Linked DNA regions of Homo sapiens. The protein of the gene in region 2 purifies or fractionates together with the protein of the main gene of each other region. This does not show direct contact. Each region holds a gene or a part of one and is shown on either strand. Other genes may lie near its edges.

Region 1 (3,533 bases), on a different chromosome or scaffold from region 2:
CAATTTCCATGTAGTTGAGCGGTTGAGTGAGTTTCTTAATCCTGAGTTCTAGTTTGATTGCACTGTGGTCTGAGAGACAGTTTGTTATAATTTCTGTTCTTTTACATTTGCTGAGGAGTGCTTTACTTCCAACTATGTGGTCAATTTTGGAATAAATGCGATGTGGTGCTGAGAAGAATGTAAATTCTGTTGATTTGGGGTGGAGAGTTCTGTAGATGTCTATTAGGTCCGCTTGATGCCGAGCTGAGTTCAATTCCTGGATATCCTTGTTAACTTCTGTCTCGTTGATCTGTGTAATGTTGACAGTGGAGTGTTAAAGTCTCCCATTATTATTGTGTGGGTGTCTAAGTCTCTTTGTAAGTCTCTGAGGACTTGCTTTATGAATCTGGGTGCTCCTGTATTGGGTGCATATATATTTAGGATAGTTAGCTCTTCTTGTTGAATTGATCCCTTTACCATTATGTAATGGCCTTCTTTGTCTCTTTTGATCTTTGTTGGTTTAATGTCTGTTTTATCAGAGACTAGGATTGCAACCTCTGCCTTTTTTTGTTTTCCATTTGCTTGGTAGATCTTCCTCCATCCTTTTATTTTGAGCCTATGTGTGTCTCTGCATGTGAGATGGGTCTCCTGAATACAGCAACACTGATGGATCTTGACTCTTTATCCAGTTTGCCAGACTGTGTCTTTTAATTGGAGCATTTAGCCCATTTACATTTAAGGTTAATATTATGTGTGAATTTGATCATGTCATTGTGATGTTAGCTGGTTATTTTGCTCATTAGTTGATGCAGTTTCTTCCTAGCATCGATGGTCTTTACGTTTTGGCATGTTTTTGCAGTGGCTGGTACCGGTTGTATCTTTCCACGTTTAGTGCTTCCTTCAGAAGCTCTTTTAGGTCAGGCCTGGTGGTGACAAAATCTCTCAGGATTTGCTTGTCTGTAAAGCATTTTATTTCTCCTCCACTTATGAAGCTTAGTTTGGCTGGATAGGAAATTCTGGGTTGAGAATTCTTTTCTTTAAGAATGTTGAATATTGGCCCCCACTCTCTTCTGGCTTGTAGAGTTTCTGCCTAGAGATCCGCTGTTAGTCTGATGGGCTTCCCTTTCTGGGGAACCTGACCTTTCTCTCTAGCTGCCCTTAACATTTTTTCCTTCATTTCAACTTTAGTGAATCTGACAATTATGTATCTTGGAGTTGCTCTTCTTGAGGAGTATCTTTGTGGCATTCTCTGTATTTCCTGAATTTGAATGGTGGCCTGCCTGCTAGGTTGGGGAAGTTCTCCTGGATAATATCCTGCAGTGTTTTCCAACTTGGTTCCATTCTCCCTGTCACTTTCAGGTACACCAATCAGACATAGATTTGGTCTTTTCATATAGTCCCATATTTCTTGGAGGCTTTGTTCATTTCTTTTTCCTCTTTTTTCTCTAAACTTCTCATCTTGCTTCATTTCATTCATTTCATCTTCCATCACTGATACCCTTTCTTCCAGTTGATCGAGTCGGTTACTGAAGCTTGTGCATTCGTCACGTAGTTCTCGTGCCATGGTTGTCAGCTCCATCAGGTCATTTAAGGACTTCTCTACACTGGTTATTCTAGTTAGCCATTCATCTAATCTTTTTTAAAGGTTTTTAGCTTCTTTGCAATGGGTTCGAACTTCCTTCTTCAGCTTAGAGAAGTTTGATCGTCTGAAGCCTTCTTCTCTCAACTCATCAAAGTCATCGCAAAGCTTTGTTCTGTTGCTGGCGAGGAGCTGCGTTCCTTTGGAGGGGGAGAGGTGCTCTGATTTTTAGAATTTTCAGCTTCTCTGCTCTGTTTTTTCCCCATCTTTATGGTTTTATCTACCTTTGGTCTTTGATGATGTTGACAGACAGATGGGGTTTTGGTGTGGAAGTCCTTTCTGTTTGTTAATTTTCCTTCTGACAGTCAGGACCCTCAGCTGCAGGTCTGCTGGAGTTTGCTGGAGGTCCACTCCAGACCCTGTTTGCCTGGGTATCAGCAGCGGAGGCTGCAGAACAGCGAATATTGCTGAACAGCAAATATTGCTGCCTGATCGTTCCTCTAGAAGCTTCGTCTCAGGGGTACCCGGCCGTGTGAGGTGTCAGTCTGCCCCTACTTGGGCTACTCGGGGGTCAGGGACCCACTTGAGGAGGCAGTCTGTCCATTCTCAGATCTCAAACTCCGTGCTGGGAGAACCACTGCTCTCTTCAAAGCTCAGTTGAAAGTGCAGAAATCACCCATCTTCCGCATCGCTCACGCTGGGAGCCGTGGACTGGAGCTGTTCCTATTCGGCCATCTTGGAACCGCCAGTTCATTCTTATCATAACTATCATGTGGGTTAATTTAGAAGTCTAGATAGGCCAGCTGCAGATCAAATGAAATTACATATGAAAGTGCTTTGTGCAGTATAAAGCACTATGAGATTATAGAGTGTATTGGATAATTGTATGCAGTTGCATCCATTAGACTGGCTTTTTCAGATTTCATTTGTAGAGTATCTGTGTGTGTGTGTGTGTGTGTGTGTATTTTTAAGGGATGAATATTTTGAATTATCAAAACAATAATAAAGGTCACTGCAGTGTGTTTATAATAAAGTCCTTACTGAGTTCTTATTAATGTTTTGTCTGACATTTCTTTATTAGGAACTTAAGAGATTTGAGAACTTCATAAAATCTCGTCCTCCTTTTGATGTTGTCATTGATGGTCTCAATGTTGCCAAAATGTTTCCTAAAGTTCGTGAATCTCAACTTGTAAGTATAAGTTTTACTTTGTTATTCCACATCTCTAGAAATATTTATTATACCCATTTATGACCTTCTTGGGGCTCTTAGCTCCTCAGTTTTTCTTCCTCTAAAACTAAGGTCTTCAGGGTGCCACAGTGACCAACTGCATGCTCCCCTAAGATTTACTATTTTCATCACTAATAAGTCGCTCTTCAAGGCTGGGAGAAAACAATTAAAAGTGAGGAATTAAAAGAAAGATTGCAATACAGGGCCAGATTTTCCCGTTTCGTGTAACCTTTAGCTAACCTTCTCCTGGGTCTCTGCTTTCTCTTTGGGGTCGCTCTGTCATTTCCCTTTGGGTCATATCCTTATATTTGAAAATTATCAATATACAATATCAAGAGATATTAATCACTCATTACTCACATTTGTTTTTTCCAAACATAGTATGTTCATAAATTAACCTAAGCAGTTTTTTTTTCTATATGGTAGCCATTTGTTAATTTATAAATGCCCTACTAGTTTCTAATAAGACTATCATTTTTCATAGCTGCAATTAACAGTTACTTTAATCTCTATTTTGTAGATTAAAAAATTGAGGCTAATTTTGTATAGTAAATCTATAGAAAACAGTCATAACATCAAAATTAGATTGTAGAGAGCTCCTGGGTTTCAGACTTGTGGCTCTTATCATTGGCAATCTATAGCCATTCATCTGTAATTAAACTATTTCTTAAAAATTGCTGCCGCTGGCTGGGCACAGTGGCTCATGCCTGTAATCCCCAGCACTTTGGGAGGCCAAGGTGGGTGGAT
Region 2 (3,966 bases):
GAAGGGTTTGATTTAGTTCTAGGAAGTCCTTAGGTTCCCTGCCTCAAGACCCTATTCTCCTGCTTCACATATACATTTGTTTACATAGAGGTGTCAATAAAGACAACTACTCTTAAATATGCTGAGTGTGTAGTTACTGTTTCCTAGTGGGGGTTCACTGTCACCTTTAGCCACTTTTTCAGAAATTGCTCATAAGAAGGCGCTGAGATCTTAATGATACTTCTTTATCCAAGAACTACAATTAGGATTCTAACAAATTTACAAAAGTTTTCCTATTAGCCAATATTGCATCTTTAGTCAAGAGCATACGTGTTACAGTTATGCACATCAAAGAACTTTATTAACTACGCACGTAACTTTTGGCAGGCATAATGAAAAAAATGTTTACTAGAAGAAAACTCTTTTAGGTTCTTGAAAAAAATGGAAATTACAGTTCAGGTCAAAGTATTTCCTAATTCAATGAAGTAAACCACTGACCAAAATTAGGACTGGAATGTAACTAATGCAATAAAAAGCTCTGACCTATCCAATTGCATTGTAATATAATGGTAGAACATGAATGCTGAGAAAAGAAAATTCAGAGTCAAAATTTTCTTATTAGTTTCTAATTACAGATGCAATGTGAACAACATTTAATGAATCCACTTATACCACATTGATGAAAATATCACTTAAGAACCATTAATTCCTTTTGTAATAGTCATACACGCACTGTAAATTTCTAATTTGTGTTCTGGTTGAACTTTCTGTAAGAAATACCTCGCCTAAGATTATCCTCTATGTAGGTATCTATGTGTATATATGTATACACATACACACACACATACGCACACACACATATATATATGCACTCATGGTATACACACAGGCATTCGTGATATTCTTATAAATCCATCTTACTTAAGTTTGAATAGCATGTGCCATTTCCTTAAGTTGATTACACCAGAATAATCTGTGAAGACAGTTTTGATACCTACAAAGCTATGGACAAATTAGGGCTTATACTGACTAGCCAGTATGTCTGTCTGAAAGCAGTAGGCTTTTGCTCCGACATATTTTTGTTTACAAAATACAAAATTATGTAACTGTGTATGATAAGGCTTAATGATAATTATCTAGAGTTAATTCTATTCGTGTGTGACTTATATTCTTATTGCTCAAATGACTAAGCCTACCAACAAAAACAGCTGCAGCTGCCCCTGCCTTTTGTGGACACTCTTTTTGTGCTTTTAAACCAAACTCTAGTAACAATGTTGGTCAAGAAGCAAGTGCCTAGTATCCATAATTTCAAAATTATTATAATAAAATATATCAGGAGATAGGCCAATGGGGCATTTGTGACAAATGGATTTCAGGTTGATTCGAGGAATTTGTATTTGGAGGATAAAATAGTTGATCAAAGGTACACATTTTTACAATTTTGGGCAGTATTAATATACAGTAGGGAACCTACAGTGAGAGAGGGAGAGAGATGTGGACAGGTGGTGCCAGAGAAGGAAGACTGCAGGGGAGCCGGGTATGGTGGGGGAGCCGGATGGGAGTTAAGAATTTTGTTGCAGGGATGACTTTTAGCTGCTAGGGCAGAAATCATGAGTCGTCCATCCTCCCTTATCTCCAAGTTAGGGATCATTCCCACCAGCAACGACCTCCACTTCACTTAAAAGAGAACAACTGATGGACATTTCTAAAAACTTAAAGTTTGGAATCATGCCATAAGGACGTCATTCCTGGCCCTGCCCCACTGGAGAATCATTAGGGTAAAAACTGCATTGTTAACCCGGGGTGAATGGACATGAGCTGCTCTTCTTTAGTGCTCCTCAGTCTGTCTCTAGGACAGGTTAATCCCCTTCCCATCCTGCCCCTTCAGAAAGGAGTAAAGTCCTAAACATCAAAAGGAAAAGAAATTTCTAGGTTGAAGCCACAGAATAGGCCACTCCCGAAAGTTAGGGCAGAATCACAAGCTCCATTTTGTCCATTTCTCATCTAAGGTTAAAAGAGTCTGTCTGTCATCGTCCGGTTTGATAGGAGGCTCCGGTCCCGCCTGGTTGGGGGAGCGACCACACGAAGCGCGGGTGGCGGGCAGGGTCCAGCCCCACCGGGACCCTGGGCCTCCTCTTCAAGGGTCTCCGCGAAATGCTCGGAAGTTGTGTGCTTCATTTAAAAGGGGGAGGCCGGTTCCGTGGCAAGCGGCTGGTTGACAATTCCCTCCTTCAACCTGATGTCTAGAGAGGGCGGTGGCTTGGAAAGCTACGACTCCACCCGCGGCTCCACAGCGCCAGGTGACAACATGGGAGCGCTCGCTGGGCCGCAGCCGCGACATAGCTGGGCAGCAAAAACGAAACAGCCGGCGCCATGGGAGTGTCCCGGTGGGTGTGGCATCCAGGCTAGAAAAGCCTTCTGACCACCACTGCCCGCGAGACGACCCCGGCTGGGGGTATTCCCCTAGCAGCGGCCTCCTCCTCACGCGCGTTCCGGGTACCCCTGTCTTGGGGTTCCGGGGCTCACGCTAGAACCTCACCGGGGCCCCAGGTCTGGGCGCGCGTGGCGGAGAGCGCATGCGCATTGCTCGCACGTACCCGGAACACTCCCCGCCCCGCCCCTCCCCTCCCGTCGGGTGAAGGCTTGGGTACCCCCGTGGCCGGTACCTGAGGCGCCAGCGTCCGTGAGGCCAGCGCCCGAGTCAGGGCGCTTCTGAGGACGAGCATGGCGCGGCTTCGGCGCTGAGAAAAGCAGCCAGCCGTGTCCTTTCTGAGACTCCTCTGAAGGTTTCCCGAGTGGAAAGGAGCGGCTCCTGGATCATTGGCAGACGCAGGCTGGGGCGGGGCTCGGCGGGGTCAGCTCCACCCCGGCGCGGGAGGCGCGGCGGGTCCCGTAGCTTGGTGTCTTTCTCTGCTGTGCTGAGCGTTGGTTCCCCCTTGGTTTCCTGAAACGTTCTTACCCCAAACGTTAGAGGTGACGTTAGGATTAACTGAAGGCTCGGATCGTTCCTGCTTCAACTTTCTGGGCCCTCACTCACCTCATTCGCTCCAGTGCTCAGTTGTGTAGATTGGTAAATGTGCAGGGGTTGTGGGTGTGTTGACCATGGGGAAAGAAGGAGAGGTGTTGAGTGCGTGCATGTGCAGTGCTTTGTATTTAAAATCGTGGAGGTTTTTTCCGAGTTAAGTTTTAGATGTTGTGATAGACGTGTATTTGAGCCTGACCTCTCTGCAATGAATGTGTTCTCCATCTTAGAAGGCTCCTAATTAAGATTTAGATTAAATTTTCCACGAGCTCAGAGAAATGGCAGCATCGAGCCTGAAATGAAAAAGTCAAAGTTAAACATACCCTGGTCTAGTCCTCCCAGTCCGGGAGTGTTGGTTCCCAGAGTAACCACCTTCAACATTTCAAGCTGTTTCATTTAATGCTTGTTTCTGTATTTTTAAGTAAGTAGTGTTTTCTGCTGTTTATTGCATTTTCAGTTATGGATAGTATGTGTTGACTTCCTTCTGTGGCAGATGAGGATTTATGTCTCATAGATGCCACTGCCCCCAAATTCACTTGTCTTCCTGCATCTAATAATGCTTATGTTAATTTACAGTAATTAATTACACTATTAATTTACAGTAATCTATATTAATGTTTACATTATTCTTGCTAATAATTACATTATTGTAAACATTAATGTAATATTGCTTACATCATGAGGACTAGGGAGGGATTGCAGGGCCATGACCTGGGTTGTATTGGTTGTGCCTTGTGGAAGAGCTTTGGAATTGTCTGTTCAAAGGAAGGGAGACTTTTTAAAATTAGTTATTTCGGAAGGGTTGCCTCAGTTTTTCTAGAAGAGAGACATCTATTTGTAACCATGCAAGACTAAAAAAATCATTTGTATCAGGACTGGATCTATATGAGTAAATTATTTTCTTAGACCTTTTTTTTTAAACCCTGTAATTGCCAATCCATTTACTTATTCAACAGATATTTACT

What was found. Proteins that work in one complex are often made in the same cells at the same time.
Region 1: the proteins of NIPSNAP3A (region 2) and PRORP purify together in Homo sapiens (affinity purification with mass spectrometry; one large-scale study listed by BioGRID and IntAct). This does not show direct contact.

What each region holds. Positions count from the first base shown.
Region 1 is NC_000014.9:35,178,031-35,181,563, forward strand, and holds part of PRORP (mitochondrial ribonuclease P catalytic subunit isoform 1 precursor), read left to right. Parts: intron 1-2,639; coding exon 2,640-2,747; intron 2,748-3,533.
Region 2 is NC_000009.12:104,746,532-104,750,497, reverse strand, and holds the start of NIPSNAP3A (protein NipSnap homolog 3A), read right to left. Parts: upstream 2,816-3,966; 5' UTR 2,706-2,815; coding exon 2,646-2,705; intron 1-2,645.